5 separate regions of the Homo sapiens genome follow, and regions 2, 3, 4 and 5 are each reported to be linked to region 1. Evidence: microRNA targets listed by miRTarBase, many of them from high-throughput screens and not tested one by one. Region 1 holds a microRNA gene; each other region holds the end of a gene's coding sequence.

Region 1 (5,105 bases):
GAGTAAGATCCTGTCTCGGAAGGAAATTATGAAGCTGAGGAGGACCCATCATAGGGGCCTGGATAGGGGTGGTGCTGGACTTGGGAGGAGAACCAGAAGATTCTGGGTCTCAAGTCCAAAGAAACTAATTATTTCCTGTTGAAGGGCTCAGATTTCTGTTTGAGAGTGGAGTTTGTAGTTACCATTGGAAGATGAGAAATGTACAGGAAACTTCATTTTTATATAAAACTGTGTGACATCTGAAACTCCAAAACACAAAATAAAACCCTTCAAAAATGGTGAATTATCAAGCAGCGATTGGTGAGTGGAGAGGGGCACGGCTGTGGATCTCAGAAGGAACCAGAAATACACTTTTCGAAGATGACGGGCACAGCCTGAGTTGCAGAACCAATCCTTCAGATCACCAGTGTGGTTTTTTGACTGGAGCTTCTGTGCCTATTATGGTTCTGGGAAGCAGGGGATGTCATGTTTAAGTAGGAATTTGCCAGGATCTGTTTTTGTTTAACATGGGGAATAAGAGATTTTCTGCTTGGAAAACCTCCAGACACATTTAACCATTCTCAGGGAGGAGTGAAAGGTTAACATATAGGCAAAATCCTGTCCACAAGCTGCTTCCATGCTTAGGAGACAGAAAAATGGCCATCTCCTATACCTACCAGTTGCTGACCCAGGAAAAACTGGCTATCTTCAAAGAAGAATAAAGAAAAAATAGCAGCTATTAAAACAGCCACTATTGTTATATGAATAAATAAAAAAAAAGAGAGAAAACATATGACAATAATGAGCACTTATTAAAACCTATGAGTAGGAAGTAGATGCATATTATTACCAAATAATTCTTTGTGAAATAAAAAAGAACAGGAAAACTTCAAAATGCAAAGAAAAACTCAATTGAACATTAGAAAATATACTGATTTATTACATTATGTCAGTAGGAACAGAAACCATATGCATATAAAACCAATACCCATATTTATTTTTGTCAAATCTTACTCCACTGAGATAGGAAGTAATTTTTTTTACCTTTACACAAGCATTCTGTAAGACATGCTCATGTGTGGTTCATGGATACCTTTTTTCTCATTTCAGCTGTCCAGATCATTGATGACCTTATTGAAAGGAGCCATGAAAGTCATGATAGATTTTTCTGGCAAATTGTAATCACCAACAGCAACACATCAACTCAGGAGAGAGTTGAATTAGGAAAAACATTTAATTTGAACTCAAACCATGTTTTAAATCTGATTATAAATAATGGAAACAGTTCAGGAATGAAGCCTGGGCAGTTTAATGATTGCCAGAACATGCTTTTCCCTATTAAGCCTGGGGAGACACAGTCTGGAGAGAAACCTCATGTCTGTGATATAACCAGGAGATCCCACAGACATCATGAACATCTTACTCAGCATCACAAGATTCAAACTCTGCTGCAGACTTTTCAATGTAATGAACAAGGGAAAACCTTCAACACGGAGGCAATGTTCTTTATACATAAGAGGGTTCATATAGTACAGACCTTTGGTAAATATAATGAATATGAGAAAGCCTGTAATAACTCAGCTGTTATTGTCCAAGTGATAACTCAGGTAGGACAGCCAACTTGCTGTAGAAAGTCTGACTTCACTAAACATCAGCAGACACACACAGGAGAGAAACCCTATGAATGTGTTGAATGTGAGAAACCCTCCATTAGCAAATCAGACCTTATGCTACAGTGCAAGATGCCTACTGAGGAAAAACCTTATGCCTGTAACTGGTGTGAAAAATTGTTCAGCTATAAGTCCAGCCTCATTATCCATCAGAGAATTCACACAGGGGAAAAGCCCTATGGATGCAATGAATGTGGTAAAACCTTTCGCCGTAAGTCATTCCTCACTTTACATGAGAGAACTCACACAGGGGATAAACCCTACAAATGTATTGAATGTGGAAAAACTTTTCACTGTAAGTCACTTCTCACTTTACATCACAGAACTCACTCAGGGGAAAAGCCCTATCAGTGTAGTGAATGTGGAAAAACCTTTAGCCAGAAGTCATACCTCACAATACATCATAGAACTCACACAGGGGAAAAGCCCTATGCATGTGACCATTGTGAAGAAGCATTTAGCCATAAGTCAAGGCTTACTGTCCATCAGAGAACACACACAGGGGAAAAACCGTATGAATGTAATGAGTGTGGAAAACCCTTTATCAATAAGTCAAACCTCAGGTTACATCAGAGAACTCACACAGGGGAAAAACCCTATGAATGCAATGAATGTGGGAAAACGTTTCACCGTAAGTCATTCCTCACTATCCATCAATGGACTCACACAGGGGAAAAACCCTACGAATGCAATGAATGTGGGAAAACCTTTCGCTGTAAGTCATTCCTCACTGTCCATCAGAGAACTCATGCTGGGGAAAAACCATACGCATGTAACGAATGTGGAAAAACATATAGCCACAAGTCATACCTTACAGTACATCACAGAACTCACACAGGGGAAAAACCCTATGAATGTAATGAATGTGGAAAATCCTTTCACTGTAAGTCATTCCTAACTATACATCAGAGAACTCATGCTGGCAAAAAACCCTATGAATGTAATGAATGTGAGAAAACCTTTATCAATAAGTTAAACCTTGGGATACACAAGAGAACTCACACAGGGGAAAGACCCTATGAATGTAATGAATGTGGAAAAACCTTTCGTCAGAAGTCAAATCTCAGCACCCATCAGGGAACTCACACAGGAGAGAAACCTTACGTATGTAATGAATGTGGAAAAACCTTTCATCGCAAGTCATTCCTCACCATACACCAGAGAACTCACACGGGGAAAAACCGTATGGATGTAATGAATGTGGAAAAACTTTTTGTCAGAAATCATACCTTATTATACATCAGAGAACTCACACCGGGGAAAAGCCCTATGAATGTAATGAATGTGGAAAATCCTTTCATCAGAAGGCAAATCTTCAGAAGCATCAAGGTATTCACACGGGGGAGAAACCCTATGAATGTAGCAAATGTGGAAAAACCTTGTCAGAAGTCAGTCCTCACTGTACATCATAGAACCCATACCGGAGAAAAACCTTATGAATGTAATGAGTGTGGGAAAACCTTTTGTCACAAGTCAAACCTCAGTACGCATCAGGGGACTCACTCAGGAGAGAAACCCTATGAATGTGATGAATGTAGGAAAACTTTTTACGATAAGACAGTTCTCACCATACATCAGAGAACTCACACAGGTGAGAAGCCATTTGAATGTAAAGAATGTAGGAAAACCTTCTCCCAGAAGTCAAAACTCTTTGTACATCACAGAACTCACACAGGGGAAAAACCCTTTAGATGTAATGAATGTAGGAAAACTTTCTCCCAGAAGTCAGGCCTCAGTATACATCAGAGAACACACACAGGAGAAAAACCTTATGAATGTAAGGAATGTGGGAAAACCTTTTGCCAGAAGTCACACCTCAGCAGGCATCAACAAACCCATATAGGAGAGAAATCTGACGTAGCTGAGGCAGGCTATGTGTTCCCTCAAAATCACTCTTTTTTCCCTTGAACACACAACCTACACCTCTCTGGCTACTATTACAGATTTCTCCATGCTCAGTCTAGGAGAATATGGACACAAATGGTGACCATTACCTCCTGGCCTACCAACAAGAAGGTCTTAACCATGCTGTAACAGAAGTCCTATCATGCAGGCTTTGTTGTTCCCATTTTTACAGCACACTTTGCACTTTAATGTCACAGATATGGCTGTTTTCCTAGAAGCTCATATACCAACCTCTGCCAGCTTCAAACATTTCTTCTGCAACTTCCTCACCTCTCTTCTCCTCCATAGAATTGAAGAGAGTTAGGGCCTTTCTCAGGATTAGGCTTTGTCTCAAGGGAATGTTGGGGCTGGTTTGATCTTCTATGTGGACCACTCAGACTTTCTCTGTGTCAGTAAAAAGCCTGTTTTGTTTTTTAAAAATCATTCATGTGTTCTCTGGAGTAGCACCTATAACATCCTTCAAGAACTTTTTCTTTGCATTCACAACTTGAGTAGCTGATGCAAGAAGCTTAGCTTTGGCCTGTCTTAGCTTCCAACATGCTTTCTTCACTAAGCTCGATGATTTCTACCTTTTGATTTGAAGTGACAGGTGTGCACACTTCTTTTCAATTGAACACATGGTGGCCACTGCAGAGTGAAGTGGCCTAATTTCATTGTTGTATCTTGGGGAATGGGGAGCTAGAAGAGAGAAACAGAGACAGGGAAATGACTAGTCAATGAAGCAGTCAAACACAACATTTTTCCATCACGTTTGCTATCTTCCATAGAGTTCCAGCACGCTGAGACAATTCCATTAGTAACATCAGAAATCACTGATCACAGATCATAACAGATGTGATAACTAAAATCTTTGAAAGATTGGGATTGCCAAAAGATGTGACAGAGATGTGAAGTGAGCCCATGGTGTTGGAAAAATGGTGCTGGTCAGGCTTGCTGAGCACTTCGTGGCCACAAATCTTTAATTTGTTAAAAAGGTGATGTTGCCAAGCAAAATAAAGTGAAGCTCAAAGTGAGATGTGCCTCTATTTTGATGGGCTCTAACAATTTGTCTTTTCTGGGTGCATTTAGACCATTGACATTCAAAGTGATTATACAGTTGGATTAATTTTGCCATATCATTTTCCATTAACTCCTATTATTCTTTGATCTTGCTTTGTCCTCCACTCTTTTTCTGCCTTTTATGGAGTTGATGATTTTATACGATTTTTGTTTCCTCTCGTTGCTTTTTTTTTTTTTTTTTTTTTTATTGAGACAGTCACCCAGGCTGGAGTGCAGTGGTGTGATCATGGCTCCCTGCAGCCTCAACCTCATGGGTTCAAGTGATCCTTCCACCTCAGTCTCCCAATTAGCTAGGACTACAAGTATGCAATTAGCTAGGACTACAAGTATGCACCACAATACCTGGCCTTTTCTTTTCTGTAGGGACAGGGTCTCACTGTATTGCTCAGGATAGTCTCTAACTCCTGGACTCAAGCCATCTTTCTACCTTGGCAAGAGCCACTATACCTGGCCTGTTTTCTCTTTTAGCATTTCTATACTTTGGTTTTTACT
Region 2 (5,105 bases), not on the chromosome of region 1:
CTGAAGCCATCTTCCCACCTCAGCCTCCCTAGTAGCTGGGACTACAAGCACATGCCACCACACCAGGCTCATTTCTTTTCTTTTTTATAGAACTGAGGTCTCACTATGTTACCCAGGCAGGTCTTGAACTCCTGAGTTCAAGTGATCCTCCCACCTTGGCCTCCCAAGGTATGGGGATTACAGTTGTGAGCCACCATACCCGGCCTCATGTTCCTTTTTATCATCATGTGATTTATGAGTGCCAGAGTACTTACTACCTCTAGCAAATAGAATTGGGTAAAAAACAAATGGTAATTGGAATCAGAGGATCTACTGCTTGCTGTCAGCATTGTTGCCATTTAATGAATGACATAGTTATGTAATTCGATTCATTTTGTCTATTCATATATTCATAAAATTGAAACAGAATTATAGATTTGCTTTTGGGAAAGAGTATGTATTTTAAGCATTTCCTGGTGGCCCTGAGTCTCATGTGAGTTCCTGTTTCAGGCTCAGGAAGAGGCCAAAGAAGCAGAAATGAGCAGAAAGGAGTTGGGGCTTGATGAAGGCGTGGATAGCCTGAAGGCAGCCATTCAGGTAAACTTGGCAGTTTGTTGCCACATCTTTAATGATCTGATTCCTACTGCTAATATTTTCTTTGGAATGTTGTATTTTGTTTTCTTCTTTTAAGACATAACCGCATACCTTCTATTTGTCCTTTTAAAGTGTACAATTTGGTGGTTTTAAGTGTATTTACAAAGTTTTACAATTATTAACACCAATTGTAGGACATTTTCACCATTCCAAAAAAACTCCATACCCATTAGTAGTTATTCCACTTTTCCAGCCCCTGGCAACCACTAGGTACTTTCTGTCTATGGATAATGTTGTGAAAGCTTGTGTTTTAACTTCTCAAACAGAGCAGACAAAAGGATCGGCAAAAGGAAATGGACAATTTTCTGGCTCAGATGGAAGCAAAGTACTGCAAATCTTCCAAAGGAGGAGGGAAAAAATCTGCTCTCAAGAAAGAAAAGAAATAATGGAATTTTTCTCTTCAAAGGTCCTTAGGTGTAAATTGATGCCATCGTAGGCAAGGTGCAGGCAGGATTTGAAGGCAAAAGTCAATTCAGCTCTTGAGAAAAGGTGTCTTTCCAGCCTGAATTTTTCAGATTGACTAGACCAAGCAGAATCTCTCAACCTGATCTTAGTATTTCCTAGAAAGCACTTGACATTGTGTGAGGTCTCACCTGAAGGAACTTGGTGGTGACATTTGGGAGGGTGGAGGGAGGCAGTGTCCTTCCTGACAGCACTTGCCTCCATGGATCTTCTGTACACAGAACTCTTATCTAGGATGTGGTTCTGTTCATGCTGCTTTCTGCGATGTGCGTGTCTGTTAGAATAGGCTCTCTACCCAGCTAGAACACCTTCCAGACACTTGCTGGACAGCTATCTTCCACATACTTCCCAGTTTACATTTGGTCTTAATGATCTTGAATAGATCCTCTCTTCATTTTACTCAGCCAGGTTTTGTACTGATGTACAGGTGTTAAATTACTTCAAGCATTTTTGTAAGAGGTGTATATAATTCAATAAAAAAGGTAAAACATGATGATTAAGTTCTGGGGGCTTTGTAAATGATCCCACTAAAATGTGACCTAGGAAAAATATGAATGGTGTTTAGGATGAGAGAAAAGGGGAAAACAATAGCCCTGGTCAGCTTTATAATAGAGAGCCTGGTTTCCCTAGCATGAAGAGATGTATGTTGTAGTCCTGCCACTGATTACTGAAGTCCTGCCATTAATTGCTGAATGTCTTCAGTTGGGCCACTGAGCTTGTCTGAATCTGTTCCCTTTTATAAAAGAGTTACTACATCAAAACAAAGAGTGAAATCCAAATTTGTCAAACTGTATGTATTAAACATGTCCAGTTTTTTGGTTAAAAAAAAATTGCACTGGCTTTGAGGGAAAACACACAGGGTGAGGGAATTGGGCTAAATGACTTCTTACAGGCCCCTTTCTGATTCTTTAACTTTGAAAGGCAAGCCATATTGATCCAGTTGTTATAGTGAACTCATGGTAATGGTTTGTGAGAACAATAGAGATTTTCATTTCTATGTAGATGAGTTGGTATGAGAATATATGGAATTTTTAAGGGACTGTTTAAATCTTTGATTTGTAGACTATTAAATATACCGTATGCATAAAGTAAGCCTTTAGCTCTAAGGTAAAGACGACACGTTTTCGGTTTGTGACTACAAATAGGTTAAAAATAGATTTTAATTTTATTAAAAATATAATTTAATGCAGGTTGTTTGAAGCATCTGTCTTCATATGATGGCATTAGAACACCTTGGTATAATAAAAAGTTACCGTAATTTATGATTATTTGAATTTATCCATTCTGAAAATTAATAAGATCTAAAACTGGCATGACAATCAAGATTTGTATTTAGTGAAATTTAAAATAAATGTAAGCCATAGTTAAAACTGTTGCTGCATTCATGAATGCCCTTAGGAAAAGGTCCACAGTAAAATCAGAAAGCTGAACCTCTCCTGCTGTTTATAGGATATGTTTATGCTGAATTAATTGCCAGGGTTTCTTAAACTTTTAGGGAATTATACTTTGGTGGCTCAATAGTAGATTCTACAAATTATTTTTAAATTGATTTCCTTTCCTTAGAGCTGCAGGAGAATATCTGGCAAGGTGCATTTAATATTTGGAAAAAAGATATGACCAGTAACCTACTTTAGGAAGAAAATAAGCATCACCTGGCATCAGGTAGGCATCGTAAGGTTGAGCTGTCCTATCTGAAAAAATATGCGATATAATTTATTACAGAAGTTACTTTATACTAATGCTTAACATTTATGTTTTTAGTTACACACCCCTTCCATTTTAATCTGCTGATAGGGTAGGACATCTAAAGAGAGTTTTAGGAATGACATCTATTTGATGAGGTCAGATTTTCAACAGCAAAATGACTTAAAACTGAGTACAACTCTCCAGAAATGAACACAGGCTGAAGTATTCTGAAGCCAGTGATATTGTCACTGATGATTTGCTGCTTTTTGTGTATGTGTGAGCTCATCAAATCCTATATGATTGAACTGATCATTGTTAAGAGATAACATGAGCAGTGATTTGGGTATTATTCACTGTTGCATCTTTGGGTACAAACTTGCCTTTCCAATGGGATAGGTTAATTTCTGCTGAAAGAGACAGTAACTGGAGATAGAAACAACACTCATGTCATTTTTGGCTGCTATGGTGTTTTGTTCTTCGGTCACTTGTGCCAAAATCACTCTTCATGAAGATGATTTCTAGTCGATCTTCTATACAAGCTCTGCATCACTTGATGACTGAATACTGCTTCATGAAATCTCGTGTTTCCTGCAGCCTGATAGATTCTTCTCATTTGCCTTATGGTCCCTGCCTGGTTCGAGAGACTGGTCTGCCTCCGCTTTGAGATTTTGTAGACCCATGTAACTGAGGACCTGTCAGATGACATAGAGTAACATTAGTAGACAGTCTAGGTTTGATAATCACTCTCAAGTTTATAGCTAAGGGCTTTTTTGCTCCAATTATGAATTGGACTTTCTTAAGGTATGAAAGCAGTAAACTAGTTTTGTAGAAGAGCCCACTAATTAAAAAGAAGCAAGATGTCTGATTTACTCACTTCCACTTCAGTGTTACATAAGTTATACCTGAGGTTTTTTTTTTTTTTTGGAGGTGGAGTCTCACTCTGTCCCCCCAGGCTGGAGGTGCAGTGGCATGATCTCGGCTCACTGCAAGCTCTGCCTCCCAGGTTCACCTCATTCTCCTGCCTCAGTCCCCCGAGTAGCTGGGACTACAGGCATCTGCCACCACACCCGGCTAATTTTTTGTATTTTTAGTAGAGATGGGGTTTCACCATGTTAGCCAGGATGGTCTCAATATGCTGACCTCGTGATCCGCCCGCCTTGGCCTCCGAAAGTGCTGGGATTACAGGCATGAGCCACCACGCCCAGCCAGTTATACCTGACTTTCAATGTGGCTGAAATTGTAGCTCAAATGCAGATCTGAAAGCATAATCTGACAAAAGCATTCAAAGACTACCAGACAATGCTGCGGGGAACTGAGCTGAGAAATCACTTGGACTACAAAGATGGTTTGAGGCAGACTAGTTTTTTACCATAGTTGCTGATTATTTTGATCATTAACAGGAAACATCTCAGCTGTCCATTACTTCTAAATTTACCTTCAGCATAATAAGAATGACCCTGATGGTGGTGAGAAGACTGTCACAGGAAGAATTAAGACATCCTGCAGCCTGGGCAACATAGCAAGACCCTGTCTCTACAAAAAATAAATTACCTGGGCATGGTGGCACTGCTTGTAGCCCTAGCTATGTGGGAGGCTTAGGTGGGAGGATCCCTTGAGCCCCGGAGTTCGAGGCTACAGTGAGCCATGATCATGCCACTGCATTCTGGCCTGATCAGCAGAGTGAGACTGTCTCAAAAAAGACATCCCTCAATTTTCTCCCATCACTTCTTTGTTAGTACATCTACAGAGTATAATTTAAAGATAAAAAGAGTTAATGCGATAGAATCAGACTCAGCATATCCTGATGGTTTAGAATTTCTTTTCTTACCTTGGCCTAACAGATTAACTGATCAAAGCAGTTTAATCCATAGGAATATGGATTTTGCCTGCATAATAAAATCCATGCTATGTTCTTAAAGAATATTTTGAACATTACAACAAGGACTAATTTGGGTTGAACTTTTTAGATTTAAAAAAAAAAAAAAGGCAGTTTACCAAAGTAGTGAGAAGTTAATTTACATGGTATGAAGAAAATAGGAATCTGAAACTTTTTGGCTCTGAGCAATAGAACTCTCCTAGCTTTTTATTATACCCCATGTTCCAAAATGAATTTTAGGTGATTTACAAAGATGTGGGAAAACATTAAATCCAAGAAAATCTGAAAGAAGGGGAAATAGGTGTAGGAAAAAAGACAAAGGCTGGGTCTTAACACAACCACACAGTAGTAAATAAGGGCCATGGCCCCACCTTTACCTGCAGATCCCCTGCCAGGTCGGGCCTGATGAGGATACTCAACTGCACATGAGCGACGATACTGTGTATCC
Region 3 (5,105 bases), not on the chromosome of region 1:
AAACTAAGACGACTCTGTTCTGCGCAGGCGTGTTGGGGGTGCTCCCCCTTCCTCTCCATAACACAGACGCCTCCCGCGCAGGCGTATTGCCTTCCGCAGGCCCTCACAAGAAAGCTGCTCCTTTCGCCATTTTGGTAATGGGATATGGGCTATCATGCCCTTGGAGTCCTCAGGCATGAACAGAAAGGAGCAAGGTGTGGTGTTGGATGGAGCTGGTCGCCTGTCGGTGACAGCAGTATTCCTAGGGATGTTGTACTTGACCGTTTGGTTCTACCATCGGGTGTGGCTGGACCAGGCCACCATATTGGTAAAGAGAAAAGCCATTTGAGACAGAAAATGACGCTTTTGGAGGCGTGTGGGATGACTGTGGTTCCTAATTCTCTCCCGCTCCTGACAGATAATTTTATCAGTTAATTGTATCCTCAGCATCCCTGCCTTGCGTGGTGGTGGCACTGGAGAGTTCCGCCTGCCCGTTACCACCCTCTCTTCACCACTGTCCCTGAGATCTGCTCTTCAAGAGGAAGCCTAAAGTGGAGAGTTTGTAATCCTGACAACGCCCAGCTACCTGCGTACCCCGGACTCCAACTCCCAGTTTGCAACGCCAAAGGGTCTAAAGGGCGAACGGGGGCGCATTGCATCCTGGGAGCAAGAATCGCGATAGGTCTGATGGATTGTGGGAACTGTAGTTCCATGTGCGTGCGATGCACTCTATGGTAGGATAGACCCGGGGAAGAGTCATTTGCCGGCCAGGAAGGGATACTTTTGAGAGCGTCAGTGCTGCATGCCGGGATTTGTAGTCTGAGGGCCCGCCTCGCATTCTGGGCGGGGATTCATGCTCCTTTTCAGGGCGCCCGCTCCTCCCCTTGGTATTGCCGTCAGAGATGGGCGGTTGGTTATTGCTGCCTGATGGTGGATGAAGCAGTGGAAAAGAGAATTGTATCGTTGTGCTTGACACTAGGGGTTTAGTTGGAATTGTTGCTTCGTAGCTGTGCTCGGCCCACTTTTAATGTTAAGGGACACAGCATTCTCAGAGTCGTCAAACTAGCAAGGGTTTAGAGACCATCTGATTTAATCCCCTCTTTTCCAGATGCACAGGGAGGCGCAGTGATTTGCCTAGGTCACATAGTGCATTTATGGCAGACCTAAGAATTGGATTTCTTGATTCTCAAGCCAGACACTGTCCATTACACTATGTCGACTGTGTCTAAGGAATTACTATGCTTGCTTTGGGGACAGTAAGGAGGATGAGTTAGACAGAGTGGGGATGTCAGTGTATGGAGTCTTAGGTTTCTGTTTTCCTGACTTTTCGCTTTTCTGATGACCCTCTTGGTGCCTGGAAAGAATGATAAGGTCATGGATGGTGGGGTGGAGAATGTCATGTGAATTGGCTGCCCTCTGCTTTCTACCATTCTGAGCCAACAATAAACTTCAGGAGCTGTGGACCAGAGATGTGGCCATCAGAGAGGGGAGGGCTGAGCTAGATTGTTTGTATGAAAGAGGCAAGATTTTCTATCTCCTATGGCTATATTTTATGTCACAGGCTCTCAGAGTTTAGAACCTCATGTGCCCTCTCTCTTTGGCTTTTTTTCCTACTGCTCAGGGCCCAGCTGTGCTGCTGTGTTAACCTGGAGGCATTATGGAACAGGTAAGTAAGCCATTGGCATCCATCCACTGGACAAGGCTTTGCTTTGATCAACACCATCAATTGCAGCTGATAATAGGAACTATGGGCTAATGAGGGAAATAAGACTTGGCTCTGTTGACAAGAGCCAGGGAAACTTCACACCTCTTCCTCTTGGAACTTGCAGGATGAGGTTAGGCCAGTGGGGCCAAGGAATGCTCCCACCTTGGAGAGCTCCCGCCCTGACAGTTGAGGGGGGATTGAGGGGCGAGCAGGTGGGATACAGACGCCTTTGGAAGTGACCTCTTGTGGCTAATCTAGGCACTGCACTCTGCATGGACAAGAGCTTCTCCATCCTTCAAGGTGGCTTGTGCTAGAGCCAGGGGTAGGCAGCATGAGTGGTCAAGACTTCCCTTTTGGAAGACTGTAGAAGCAGAAGGTGCTGGTTGCTGCTATTATTTCTTTCATGGATTTTTCTCTACTGGTTTCTGAGCTCCCATAATTTCCTGTTGCCTGCCTCTTGCTGTCACTCTTGGAGAGCAGCAATGCAGGGCACACCTCTCAGCATGGAATGTGCATACTGGGGGCCAACGCTGGGCACTTTCCATCTTTGTAGGTGCTGGGGCCCATAGGGAAGGGGCAAACTTGAGCACATCCTCCCAGCCACCTTTTTCCAGAGCCCATGGTTAGGGCCTTTGCCTAACTTAGGATCCAAGCCCGTAAGCTGCATTACCACTGCTCCTGACAATCTAAGGGTTTTGTAAGGCCAAGCCAGATTAGGGCTTCATGTTTTGGGGATCAGTCTCTGTTTCCTATTCTAATTTCCCAAGCCTTGCTTACTTAGAAATAAGGGGAAGGAGAGATGCATCAGACTTCCTGAGCCTAGTTAGCATTGAGAAGGGCATCAGTGGCGTTGAGAAGGGATTTGGGAGTGTGCCAGCCTGTAGTTCTGGACCTGGCAAAGAGGAGGAAATAAGGCATTGGGTGGATGTGCAGTGGGGTTCCTGGGCTCCCACATCCCTGTAACATCAGCCATTGGGGCCTCTGATTTTGCCTGCTATCTGTTGCACTGTCCCTTTTGGTACAGGGGACCCTGTTCAACTGCATGCAATAATTTCTTTTAAAATAAAATCTGAGCACTTTGGGTGGCTGAGGTGGGAGGATCACTTGAGCCCAGGAGTTGGAGACCAGCCTGGGCAACATAGTAAGACCCCATCTCTACAATAATTTTTTTTTAAATTAGCCATGTGTGGTGGCCTGCATCTATAGTCTTAACTATTCAGGAGGCTGAGGTGGATCACTTGAGCCTTGGAGGTTGAGGCTGCAGTGAACCGTGATCCAGTCACTGCATTCCACCCTGGTTGACAGAGTGAGACCCTATCTCAAAAACAGTAGTAATAAAATAAAATCTGAAGATGATTGATTGGTGGGTCTAGCATGCCTTCTGGTCCTGAAGTCCATATCCCATTTATCTCCCACCTCCCGTCCCTCCAAGAAAGCATCATTCACCTGGCCATTGCTTTTTTTTTTTTTTTTTTTTTTTTTTCCAAAAACACCATTTTAATAAGGAAACAACAGAAATAAAAGATTGTTCTCTGGCTGGAGCCCAGACCCCATATAATACATTACATGTACAAAGTGGCTTTCAGCCAGCTCCTGGGCGTCTCCCTGGGGCTCTCCTACCACCTGTTCCATGCCAAATTCCTGGGTCCTTGGACCTCTGCTCCTCTCCAGAATATGCCCACCCCCTCCCCTTATCCCATAACACAGTGGTCAAGAGGAGAGCCTGACAAGTGGCTGGAATTGGAGGAGGGACTATTAGGGTGAAGATGTTTGCAACAGCTAAATAAACATCGGAGGAAAGTCTCCCTTTCCTCAGGGTATAGGGTGGTCAGTGGAAAATGGCGTGTCCTGCTTTGGTGTGGAGCATGAGTGCCCAGGGAAGCCCAACCTGAGGTGGGGGTAGGGTCCCCCTGAACCCCTTAGGATCTCCTAGAATTACTGCCTCCACTGGGACAGGGCAGGAGGCAGAACTGTCCAGAACTTTAGAGAACTAGAGACCTCCCAAGAGGCTGATGTTGGCATGCCAGGACTACCCAGAGGTCACCGTTGAGAGGAGTTTTGGCCATTGGTGATGGCGCTGTGAGGAGTACCCTGGTGCAGTTCCCACCATGGTCAAGTTAATCCTGCTGCAGGTTGCCATGCCAGGGCGGGATGGTGGTCATGTGGAGAAAGGTACTCCTGCTCTGCTAGTGTGTTCCAGGCTGGTCCAGGGCATGAGGAGGCTCAGGATGCTGGCTGTTGATGCTTGTGCTCCAGCTATGTTCTTCCCACAGGTAGATGCCCCCTGACATGGGCCCAATGAAGGGCCCCAAGTGGGCAATGACACCAAGAAAATAGGCCATGGTGGGCATCGCAGGCGGGGAAGGGCACAACTTCTTGAGGGCTTGGTGGCATCTCCTCCTAGGTGGTATATACAGGAGGTGGAGGGACAGCAGGAAGCAAGGAGCCTTGCTGCTGGACTGTGGTGCAAGTCTGAGTTGACTTCCCTAGACTGCCCCCACCTAGATGGAGACTTCATATTCTCTCGTCTCCTGCAAAGGAAAGAGACTGCTGGGAGTTGGAAACTTGTATTAGGTTTGCCAGGCCATAATTCACCTTCCCTAGGAAAAGGGAAAAAGTGAGAGGGCTTGGCAGGACCCTCAGGGTTATCTGCCCAAAGAAGCAAAGAACTGGGTCTTGGATAGGGTGGCAAGGCTGGCATGGTTACTTACTCCAGTCTCGTAAGTTGGATTGTCAAACGCTGACTCTATGGTAATGCGGTTGTAGGGGCGGGGGCGGGGGCGGGGCAGCTGCAGGGAGCTTTTTCCCTGGAGCCTGTGGGGCAGAGAAGCCTGCAAGTCAGGAGCACTGGGTAGGAGTGAGGTATGCAGGTATGCAGAGCAGAAAGAGAAGCCAGACTCACCTGGAGAAGTAGAAGTATACACCTCCTACCAACAACACCATCGCCACCAGTGGCAAGAAGATGGCAGCTGCAATGTGGGCAGCATCCAGGGTGCTGGAGGCAGCAGGTGCCTTGGCAACTGAAGACACAGAGGGTGTGACTGGAGCAGAGGTCTCTGTCACCTGGAGCCCATATTCTCTCACCTCTGCCCAAGGGCATCTGACTACCAGCTCCCTCTAGCTGGCTGGGTGTAGGGAAGGAGCTTTTTAACCTGCTAGGCCCAAACCTCTCTCTTTCTCTGCCCTCCCTCCTTGGGAAGCCCATGACCTGGGAGCCGTGAGAACCAGGACCAGGGAGACCACTTCTCTGGCCTCAAGGGTGGAGACTTACCATCCAGGCTGCGACTGTTGTAGAACCCATCCAGAGAGGCTGGAACAAAAGGGGAGGGCCAAGGGCAGTGAGTGAGCCCAATGGGCCAAACCACTAAGGCAGGGAGAGGAGGTAGTGGGATGATCATGGGAAGGATTTGTCCAAGGAGAG
Region 4 (5,105 bases), not on the chromosome of region 1:
GTTGCAACAGATACCATATGGCTGCAAAGACTAAAATACTTACAAACTGGTCCTTTACAGAAAAGGTTTGCCAACCTCTGTCATAGAATATGCAATGAACTCTATTATACGGTTTCTACATAAAATCTCATTTAACAACCACCTGGAGATGGAAATTATTAGCCCATTTGACATAATAAAGGCAATAAAGCGTAATGGGTAAAAGTTTGCTGTGGAGTCAGACAGACCTGTGCTATGCTTTTTACTAGTTGTCTGACTATGAGTATATTACTTAACCTCTTCATCCTCTCTTATACGCATATGTAAATTATTGTGATGGTTGCACCACTCTCTTTACACACTAAACATCACTGAATTTTAAGCCTTAAGTGGGTAAGTTGTATGTTATGTGAATTATATCTCTATGAAGATGTTATAAAAATAAGGATTATTATAAATGTATGAGGTTGATTAAATTGCGTGGCTTCTATTACTGATAGCCAACAATATTCTGCATTTACTATCATACTGTATCGAGTGATTTACATATCTTAGCTCCCTTAATTCTTACAACATCCCTATTTGGTGAGCACAGCAAAATGTGTTAGGTACAGGATTTAAAATTTGGGCCTGTCTGATGCCAAAATTCACCCTTTTTCCTTCTTGTTTCTTTTTAAAAATTTTATTCCTTTAAATAGTTAATATACTCATACATTTCATCAAACAAAGTGACATAAAAGGCACACACCCTCTCTCCATCCACCATATTCCCTGTCCCACAGGTGCAGCTTGTATTAGCTTCTTGTACATCATTCAGCATTTCCTTAAAACAAAGCACATATGGATATACATTTTTATTTCCTCCTCTTTGGCAAATGTAGCATACTATACGCATTGTTCAAATATAGTATACATTGTTCTGCACCTTACTTTTTTCTCATCTCATAGCATCCCAGAGATCCTACCATATTAGTATTCTTCATTCTCGTATTTGTAGCTAAGAGTACACCAATGCCTGGGTGTACCATTATTTAATTCACTATTCCCCTCAAGATGGACAGTTAAGTTGTTTCCAAGAAACTATATTTTGAAATTGCCTCCAAAGGCAAGAAGAAAACTCCTAAGAAACGCAATCATTTTTAAAATAAATTCCTTTCCTCAAAAATGGACTTTGAAAGTGATAACTCTTCTTAAAATGCGTTGGTTAGTAAATATTTGTTAAATATTAATGCAATTGTCTAAATGTTATGTCTCCTCAAAATTTATGTATTGAAATCCTAACCCCCAAGGTGATGGTATTGGACGGTGGGGCCCTTGCTTGGTGATCAGGTCACGGGGGTGCAGCCCTCATGTATGGGATTGGTGCTCTTGTAAAAGCAGCCCCACAGATATCCCACCCCATGTGACATTACAATGATTAGAAGGTCATCTGTGAGGAAGTGGGCCCTCATCAGACACTGAATCTGCTGGCGCCCTGATCTTGGACTTCTCAGCCTCCAGAATTGTAAGAGAGAAATTTTTGTTGTTTATAAGCTACCTAGATTATGGCATTTTGTTACCGCAGCCTGAACATGTTAGATAATCATCAACAACAAACAATTAAATGCATTACACCAGAGTGACAGCCCCACGTGAGCCATGGAAGGATACTCCATCTCTATGGATAAGAACTGTGATTCACCCTCTTTAAGAGGGAAGCCCAAGGATTTCCAAAAACATTCCAAAGTCTTTGTTTGTACTTATTCAGCATATTGTTTCTGCTGAGTAATATTTACAGAGATGAAGAATCAAATATTCATTACTGAAACATCTGTTACCCCTATGGTGAATTTCTATATGATATATATTTTAAACTAATAAGTTCACCTGAGTGGAATGAAATTCTAATATTTTTATTATAGCAAACCTAGACCCAAAATATTTTAACGCTAATCTGTCTTTACAACTTCTACTATTAATCATAAAACATAAAAACAACTTATCAATTTTGTTTCCTTTTTTTTTTAAAAAAGAAACTATTACTTCAATAAGGCTATGTATTTTCTGAAGGATGCCTGACATAACATGAGTTTGAGCATTAACATGTGAAGAACCGGCTCACGCCTGTAATCCCAGCACTTTGGGAGGCCAAGGTGAGCAGATCACTTGAGTCCAGGATTTCGAGACCAACCCGGCCAACATAGAAAAACCTCATCTCTACTAAAAATACAAAAAATTAGCCTGGTGTGGTGGTGCATGCCTGTAATCCCAGCTACTTGGGAGGCTGAGACAGGAGAATCACTTCAATCTCGGAGGTGGAGGTTGCAGTGAGCCAAGATTGCGCCACTGCACTCCAGCTGGGGCAACAGAGTGAGACTCTGTCTTGAAAAAACCAAAACCAAAACCAAAAACCTATGTAAAGAACAAGCAATAAAAAAGGTAATATCAGCACAGACAAAATACCCAAGAGCTAGAGAACAATGCGGCCTTCCAAAGGGAACTGAATGAAAGAATTAAAAATGTACAGCTTTTCAAAGCTCAAGAAAGTGACAACAACAACTGAATTCAAAGGACTGAACTGGGCATTATCTTCCCAGAACACGTATGTATATTTAGCTTAATAGACCTGAGTACTATCTTAGGAAAAATCTTATATATTATGCATCTAGGGCAATGAGAGCTGTAGAAAATGATTCTCCAAAGCAAACACACTGCAGGCTGACATTAGTAGAGGAAAAGAGTCAAAGGCACACATAATGCGTCACATGTGAGTTTAGGTCTCATTCTATATAGATCATCACCAGAGGGAAAAAGAATGAGCTGCAAAAACCAGACACTAAACAGAAGCTGGGCAGCTATGCTTGTGGTTGAAGCTTAAAAAAATGCATATGTGTATTTTCTGATTATAATTGTAATATGAATTTGCAGAAGATTTGGAAAATACAGAAAAATAAGAATTTAAGTCACCCACTTATCCCACAATCCAGAGAGATCCTTTATTAAAATGGTTGGCATATTTACTTGCAGTCCTTTTTTTCTGTACATATAAGAATATATGGTTTTTACAAAATTGGGCTTATATTATGCATACAATTTTACACATGACCTTTCCTCCCACCTTGTATGACTTACGTAATTTCCCATGTTGTCATGTATTCTTTAAAGATGTAATTTTAATAACTGGGCATTATACTGAATCTTATGAATTTAAGCAGAATTACTTGATTCTTTTCACATTGCTGGACCTCTAGGTTGCTTGTAAATTTTCCGTTTTCCAAATAGCACTGTGACAGACTTTCTTATCATAATCTTCGTATTTCTATCTACTTCTTAAAAGAAGCTTAAAAGCCTATCAGTATTTCACATTCAAATTTAAATCACTTAGTATACCAGTAAATTCACCATTGGAAATCTCTGAGGACAAAATGCAAATAATGCATATGAGACAAACAATACTATTTTACGATCACTTGAAATCTATATTTATCCTTCTAGAATAGTCATCTTTCAGGGAGCACATTATTTCCTCTAGGCAAATGGACTATTACTAGGTTAATCTAAATGCAATAACATGAAACTTGGCTGACCCAGATTTCTCCAATATCGGTATGCATGCAATTACAATATTCTGCAGAATGACAAATACTCAAGGCTCTCAAAAACACATATTTTATCATCCTTTCATTTAAAACGATGTACAATGGACGCTAAAATAAAACAAATAAAGTTTATAGCCAATGAAGGTTGATAGCATCCAAATCTCATGTAGACATATCAGTTACATATAGTGTAACTTAAGGCTTTCTTCGAATTCTAGCTTTATTTTGTCACTTCCACAGTTATTGAGATCTTAAGTGCTCTCATCATATTGAAGTTATTTATAATTCCTGTTAAGAATTATATACTCTTAACAGTGTAGTTTTAGATTCACTATAGTCTATTATAAAAATTATTCCACTTTCAAGAAGCTAAATGGGGTTCTTACAATCTCTAAAGTGTGTGTGTATAATACATTCATGTATAGTAATACATATCTAAAATGTTTTTCTCCCACTAACCGGTGAAAAGCAAAACAAAAATACAACAAAAACTCCACTTATATCACTGGTCATCGTAACTATTGAATCACTCAAATGCTAAAGCGCCCTCACAATTGGCGCAGGTGAAGATAGCTACAGCTGGACTGTACAGTTGTGCAGGCTGCACATTATACAACTCTAGTGAGTGCAATCGTACCCTGATTGATGTGACTGGTATTCTCTGGGGTTGTGCAGTACACAATCCATACAACTGTACGTGACCACCTTGAAGTTAGCTCAGGTAATTCTGTTTGCTCATCCATTACTTATTTGTGCATCCTTCTCCCTAGTGAGCTATGAAAAAAGTTTTCAAAGGGAAGTAATCTTAAATCTGTATACTATTTTCTATGATGGAAATTCTGTGAAGAAACAATAACAAATTCTCCCTGACTCCTGTCTGTCCTAATAGTAAGGTGGTCTTTCTTCTAATCTCCCCATCCATCCACCCATCAGGAAGCAATAGGGTACCTTGTGTGAGTAACTGTAGATTTCTGACTTCTTCTCGCACCTTCAGCTGGAGCACCTGTTGTAAGATGTGCTGCCGGAGGTTCTCCTGGGCAATCCCCATTCGCTCGAGCTTTTTGTCAGTAAGTCTCAGCAGGGCTCGCCCTGCAGGGTTTTAAGAAATAAAAGGAAAAGCAAATGAACTACTTGCTGAAGAAAGATGTCCATTTTGGTCTTGACTAACCCTGCCATCACAGAAGTTTCTACCTAAACACAGACATTTTAGAATAAAGGTCTTCCATTATTATTGCTGACACAAATGGATTATCTGGGTGAAAAAAATACACATATTTAAAAGAGAACCCTAACTTTTAATTGAACATTGGGAAACCCCACTGACTCACACATTCAGTTAGAATGTGTGACTCATACATTCAGTTAGATAAAATAGGAAAACCTTAACCTGGATATTTGGGTCACAAATTGCAGGTTGCCATAGAAACAATGCTCTTCACTGGGGGCTGGATTCTCAGGCTGGCCCACAGGAGCCCAAGTCACTGACAACTCACTTACAACCCAGCTGAAGAACTGGATGCTCTAACAGTGGTATATACAGAAACTCTA
Region 5 (5,105 bases), not on the chromosome of region 1:
CTCCCAAAATGCTGGGATTTCAGGCGTGAGCCACTGCAGCTGTGTTTTTCTTTTCATGGATAACCATGAGGGGCTCTTGGGTCTCTGGACCAGTCATCCTGTCATGAGCTAGAGATAGAAGAGAGCTCAGGCTCACATGTCCTCTGTGGCTGGCAGCTGAGGGCATGGGGCCATCCAGATCCTTAGGAGGCCTCAGCCCTGGCTCCTTCTAAACCAGCTTCTTTCTGACTGTAGGGGCACGTTCCGCTTTGAAAGACCTGATGGCTCCCACTTTGATGTTCGGATTCCTCCCTTCTCCCTGGAAAGCAATAAAGATGAGAAGACACCACCCTCAGGCCTTCACTGGTAGGCCAGCTGAGGCCCCAAGTGCCCAGGCTTGGTCACCGGGAAGAACAACTCTCATCCCACAATTGCTGCAGAACTCTTCTCTCCCCATCATGGGCCACAGTGGGTCTCTTAATTTGATTGTGGGGTTCTTTTTGTGGGGAGGGGTGGTATAACTTTTCTTCAGAAGACCCATGTGGGACACCTCCAAGGCTGGCCTCCTCATAAGCCCTGCCTACACCATGTTCCAGTAAACCTCTCCACCAAGGAACTGTGTTCAGCTGCCACAGGCCTGGAGGAGTTTCCTGGCCTGTCACGTGAGGTTTGATCAGTAAACCAGTGCACGCTTGGCCACCCTTGCCATTTCTGCTCCCAGAGTCTCAGGCTCCCCTTCTGACCCAGTGTGCGCCCTTGACTGCTTTCTTTGCTGCCCTTCCAGGGAGCTGCCCCCCTGGTAGGGCATGTGCCTGTTTCCCTCTCAGCCTGGAGGCTGGCTGGACATCTCCTAGGGTCACTGTGCCTCTCAGCTAGTTGGCGGGGGTGCTGGACTGGACTCTTGTTCACTTTACCTTCTGCCAAATGCAGAGAGGGAGGCCAGTGTCAGGGTCGGAGTGGCCTGGCTCTTAGCACTGACCGACCATTGCCATTTCTGGCCTCGCTAGGCCCAGGAGAGGAGGGAGGCAAGCCAGTCGGGTTTCCTGGAGCAATGGGTGTGCCAGCCCTCAGCATGACTCTGCCAAGCATCCAGACCACAAATGCAGGAATTTGGCTGAGGAGCAGCTTTAGGTATGGATTGATGACTAAGTCAAGCTACTTCCTGAGCTTCTCTCAGATTTCCAAGAGCCAGAGATGAATTGTGCTGCATCTTGCCCCAATTCTTAGGATTTCTTTTCCTCCGCCACTGCAGTGATTGTTAGAGGTAGTTTTCTTGAATTAATATTAAATCACAGTTCCAGCCCTTGTTATTCTTGTCCTTAGTCCTCCAGGGGGAGCTGGGGTTGCAGGGCAACAGTACAGTCGCGCTTACGACCTGGCTAGAACACAAGGTCAGATGATAAACAGAAGCACAGGAACTCAGCCCATGGCCGCAAGCTGGTCAAGGCCTGCTCACTGTAAACATGGCTCTGTACCATTGAGTTTAACACAATTTTATTAGAAATTAGTGTTTGCTTCCATCACTTATGCTGAGCAACCAAATATTACAGTTATGTGATAAAGGAAAAATTCTTTCCTGCCCAGGACCTGCGCCATCCTTTAGGCCGACCTTGGTCACATACCAAATTCAATAAAACCCAATACTGGCCTGTGTTGTTAACAGCAGGCTGCCAGGTTTCTCAGAAACTGACAAGAAAATCTGACCTTCATCCATACTTTGTTTACTTACCCCTGGGCTGCTTGGAGTTGAAAAATGCACACAGCCAAGAGTTGCTTTCTGAATAGGGCTGGAAACTTTCAAAGAAAACCCCCAAACTTTTAAGTCACAAAGTCTGATTAAAGAAGCTAAGATCATGTCAGTGAGTTCAATGTTAGTATTTTCCTTAAGACCAAGGAGAGATTTTCAGTCAGAGAAGATAAATGCCCAGTCCCAGACTACTGTGCTTTCTCGGCAAAAAAGACTGAGACACTGAGGATGTGAATGTCAAAGTAGTAAGCAGGGACTAAAGGGGATGGGGAGGTCAAAAGGCAAGCATCACAACACCTCAGTGGGGAGCTGGGAATTTGAGTGTTAAAGGACCTCAAGAGGGCAGCTGAGAAAATAGGCCAGTGGTCTCAGGCTGACGCATTCCAGTCTCTGTGGGAAAGTCATAAAGCCAAAGCCTGAATTTGGCCAAAGAAGTGGATTTGTCTTTATCTTGTTACCTCAATGAGGGCTGGAAGAACTAGTAGCTGATCACCAAGGTACCTGACCTGAGAGTCTTAGTGCTGTTTATACATTCAAGACTGTGACTAACATAAAATGCCTAATTAGAAAGTCACATTTCCCCTGTCCCGCCGTCATGTCACTTCAGGTCCTTGTGTCTAACCCTGGGTCTGGCATTTGCCCATAGGCTCTGTGGCATCAGCTATCATAAGAGTAGTCAAGAGAGATGAACTTGATAACCTGTGTTCTCTCCAAAGAGCAGAAAGTGGGTACTATACGTGGCTACGTTGCTTTGTTAGGCTGGCAGAACAGTCCCTCCCTGACAGCATTCCTTTGGAAAATAATTCAGATAAGCTGAATTCTGGTTTGGCCAAGCCAAACAAAAAGGAATGAAAACCAAAGCCCTAAAGAGGAACTCACCTCCTGGCTAGTGCTTGGCATCTCCATGGCTGAGTTACCCAACAAGGAGTGAAGGCCTTCAGGGTGCTTCGGTTGCTCCTGTCATCCCGCGCTCAGAGACACCACTGGGCAGAACCGCCATCCCAGCCAGCACCAACCAAGAGCATAGATGGTGTGGGCAGGGAGTAGATGTGTGGCCAAGCATGTGCCACCTCTGTAGGGGCTGCTGGGAGTTTGCTGTCCTCAGCTGATGGGCATGCCAGCCAACACCATGCAGTGCCCACGGGCTCCACGGTCTTCCTGCCGTGGCTCATGTTTCTGGCCCATGTGACAGCTCTTTGGCTTTACCGTATGTGAGGACAGCATGGCTGGAAGCCAAGGGTACTCAAGAGAATCACAAAGAGCAGTCGTGCTAGACCTAGGAGTCAGTGATGTGACTATGATGTGGGGGTAAAATGTCCTTTCTCACAGGCACCCTGTGAGGACTGCCGGTCCCAGCTTAGCCATCCTTCCCTCCTCGGTGCACTCTGAGCTGCTGGCCAGGCTGCAAAGCCAGAGCTGCTCTGTCGGATGTTTTTTTTTTATTGCTTCCTCTTTATCCCCTCCCTCAGATTGATTCTGCAGGGAAGTGGGGATTAGGGTAGAAAGACATGGGTCAAGGAGATTATCAACCTCCTGAATAACAGTACAAAGTGCTTTAAAGAAACAGATCCCACAGGCATGGAGAAGGGCCAAGGGTTCTGTCATATGTAGGGTCTTGGCACCCTGGAGGGCAAAAGAAATGCTCAGTTTCCTCATTACTAGATTTAGAATTATTCATTTCCTAGATTATTTTTTAAAAACCAAACTTATCAAGCCTGTGCTTAAACACCTTAGGAAAAAAGACGTCCCACTTTCTGCACCAGGGCCTCTACAGCACCAGAACTGCCTTTCCCCCAGCTGAGGCCTAAGGGGCAGTAGCCTTCTGCACAGGGCCTAGGGGAAGGTTCTCAGCAGGAGGTGGGTCAGTCCATATGCCCCAGGGAGCAGAAGCAGCTCCGTCGGGCAGGAAGGGTGATGGTGAGCAGATAGGACAGGACGCAGTCTCCAGAAGTGCTCAGGGGCAAGGCAGGGGAATGTGGTCCCTCCTCTGCCCAGACCCTCTGACCTCTGAGCAGGGCCTGTCATGCCTCTGGGTGCTAGAGCAGAGACCCAGGCAGCAGCAGCATGGGGTGGCCAATGGGGCGGGTTCCACAGGATGGGAGATAGGGCCTCCCGTGCCCTGACTCCCTGAGGGTCTGGTCAGTCGCGATGGGTAGACTGGTGGCCGAGCTGCCGGTCATCGTAAGTGCTGTAGCGCTTGACGTGGATGCGGCGGACACGGTCCCGCAGTTCAAAGGTCTCCTCATCTTCACTGGGGGAAGCCTGGCTGCGGCTACGGCTTGTGGCCTCCAACAAGGAGTTGTCGGGGACGCGGGGAGTCTCATAGAGTAGGACGTTGAGTGTCTCCTCATAGATTCGGGCCTCTGGGAATTCCACCTGGGGTTAGGGAGGAAGAAGGTGGAGCAAGGTTTCATCTTCAAGAGGAAGCCATGCGTCAGAGCGGCTGGCCCTGAGGCTCCATAAGGCCTCCGCTACCTCTCATAAAACAGGTGGCGGTCCGTCTCCAGGGAAAGCCAGCCTCCCTCCGAAGGCGGGGTGAGGGGATGTACTCTACAGACATGAGGACAGGGAAGACCAACATCCTCCACACCCCTGCCCCAGCCTGAGACCAAGGGACTAGTGGGCATAGAGGGTGGGCCAGAGCTAGGTCCCAACACAGCTCTACCACTTGCTAGCTGTGGAGCCTTGGGCTGAACCCTTCTGGGCTGCAGCTCCCATATGTACAAAAGGTTGGTTCAGCTCAACCCCTGAGAGTTGCTGTCAACATTACGGGAAAGATGTGATTGCTTAGCAGAAGATTGGCACACAGCAAACCACCAAGCAGAGGCATACACAGAGCAGCTGCTATGCTGAGTGGTTATGCTGCCTTTCTCTGCCTGCCTGACGCAGTGTGTCACCGGCATGACCTGCCTGGAGGAAGGAGAAAGGGAAGGCAGTCAAGCACCTGAATTCTAGCCAGACCTGCTCTGTTGGACTGAGCTTCTGTTCACTCATCTGTCACATGGGGAGAGTGGCTCTAGCCCTGCGTGTCTCACAGGCATGTTGTGAGGGGTCACACGAGTTCATGAAAGACAACACACTTAAGAAGATGCCAGGTGCGCTGCCACTTCCGTCGCAGCATCACCAGCCACTGGAGACCTGCCCCTGAACCCTTTCACCACCGATAGGGTCAGGAACCACCTGTCGCCCTCCCTCCCACCCCTACACCAAAAACCGCAGAAGGAAGCAGGGCCACCTGTAAGTTGGCCTTCCCCAAACCCTCTGCAGATCTCCCAGCTGGAGGCACCTGGAGTAGTTTGGGGGTCGACAAGTTGCTTGGCAAGTCTGGCTACTTTGAGCTCTTCACACCCACATGGCCCTTCCTGGATGACCTGCCATC

Evidence for each region. Region 1 holds the annotated microRNA hsa-miR-4273 (GUGUUCUCUGAUGGACAG, at 2,128-2,145, opposite strand). A microRNA usually pairs through its seed, bases 2 to 8, with sites in the 3' UTR of a target mRNA and lowers its output. Matches are read on the target gene's strand: a 7mer-m8 pairs with bases 2 to 8, a 7mer-A1 pairs with bases 2 to 7 and ends in A, and an 8mer does both.
Region 2: the mRNA of DNAJC9 is a reported target of hsa-miR-4273. Seed matches in the 3' UTR shown: 8mer at 2,067-2,074.
Region 3: the mRNA of SEZ6 is a reported target of hsa-miR-4273. Seed matches in the 3' UTR shown: 8mer at 3,210-3,217.
Region 4: miRTarBase lists SAMD12 as a target of hsa-miR-4273. The part of its 3' UTR that is shown has no 7-base or 8-base seed match.
Region 5: the mRNA of POLDIP2 is a reported target of hsa-miR-4273. Seed matches in the 3' UTR shown: 7mer-A1 at 390-396.

The regions. Positions count from the first base shown.
Region 1 is chr3:75,735,330-75,740,434 of GRCh38, reverse strand. MIR4273 (microRNA 4273) reads right to left here and starts at 2,155; the gene lies at 2,072-2,155. ZNF717 (zinc finger protein 717) reads left to right here. Exons shown (of 5, transcript NM_001290208.3): 5 at 1,090-4,567. The coding sequence ends at 3,557.
Region 2 is chr10:73,239,314-73,244,418 of GRCh38, reverse strand. It overlaps DNAJC9 (DnaJ heat shock protein family (Hsp40) member C9), which reads left to right. Exons shown (of 5, transcript NM_015190.5): 4 at 490-576; 5 at 900-2,465. The coding sequence ends at 1,019. It overlaps FAM149B1 (family with sequence similarity 149 member B1), which reads right to left. Exons shown (of 14, transcript NM_173348.2): 13 at 5,035-5,105; 14 at 1-3,473. The coding sequence ends at 3,400. Among named protein-coding and RNA genes, the nearest start is that of DNAJC9, 5.4 kb to the left of the region's middle.
Region 3 is chr17:28,951,764-28,956,868 of GRCh38, forward strand. It overlaps SEZ6 (seizure related 6 homolog), which reads right to left. Exons shown (of 17, transcript NM_178860.5): 14 at 4,956-4,994; 15 at 4,587-4,704; 16 at 4,396-4,498; 17 at 3,142-4,231. The coding sequence ends at 4,199. LOC105371716 (a long non-coding RNA gene) reads left to right here. Exons shown (of 5, transcript XR_001752822.2): 1 at 1-1,645. Among named protein-coding and RNA genes, the nearest start is that of PHF12, 2.8 kb to the left of the region's middle. RefSeq lists enhancers at 1-46, 147-556, 258-879.
Region 4 is chr8:118,375,055-118,380,159 of GRCh38, forward strand. SAMD12 (sterile alpha motif domain containing 12) reads right to left here. Exons shown (of 4, transcript NM_207506.3): 4 at 2,930-4,646. The coding sequence ends at 4,363. All of the region lies in intron 4 of LOC105375724 (a long non-coding RNA gene), which reads left to right. Among named protein-coding and RNA genes, the nearest start is that of SAMD12-AS1, 240 kb to the right of the region's middle.
Region 5 is chr17:28,343,361-28,348,465 of GRCh38, reverse strand. It overlaps POLDIP2 (DNA polymerase delta interacting protein 2), which reads left to right. Exons shown (of 11, transcript NM_015584.5): 11 at 235-1,833. The coding sequence ends at 349. It overlaps TNFAIP1 (TNF alpha induced protein 1), which reads right to left. Exons shown (of 7, transcript NM_021137.5): 7 at 1,457-4,102. The coding sequence ends at 3,866. LOC124903963 (a long non-coding RNA gene) reads right to left here and starts at 236. Exons shown (of 2, transcript XR_007065687.1): 1 at 137-236. RefSeq lists enhancers at 2,768-3,271, 3,775-4,278.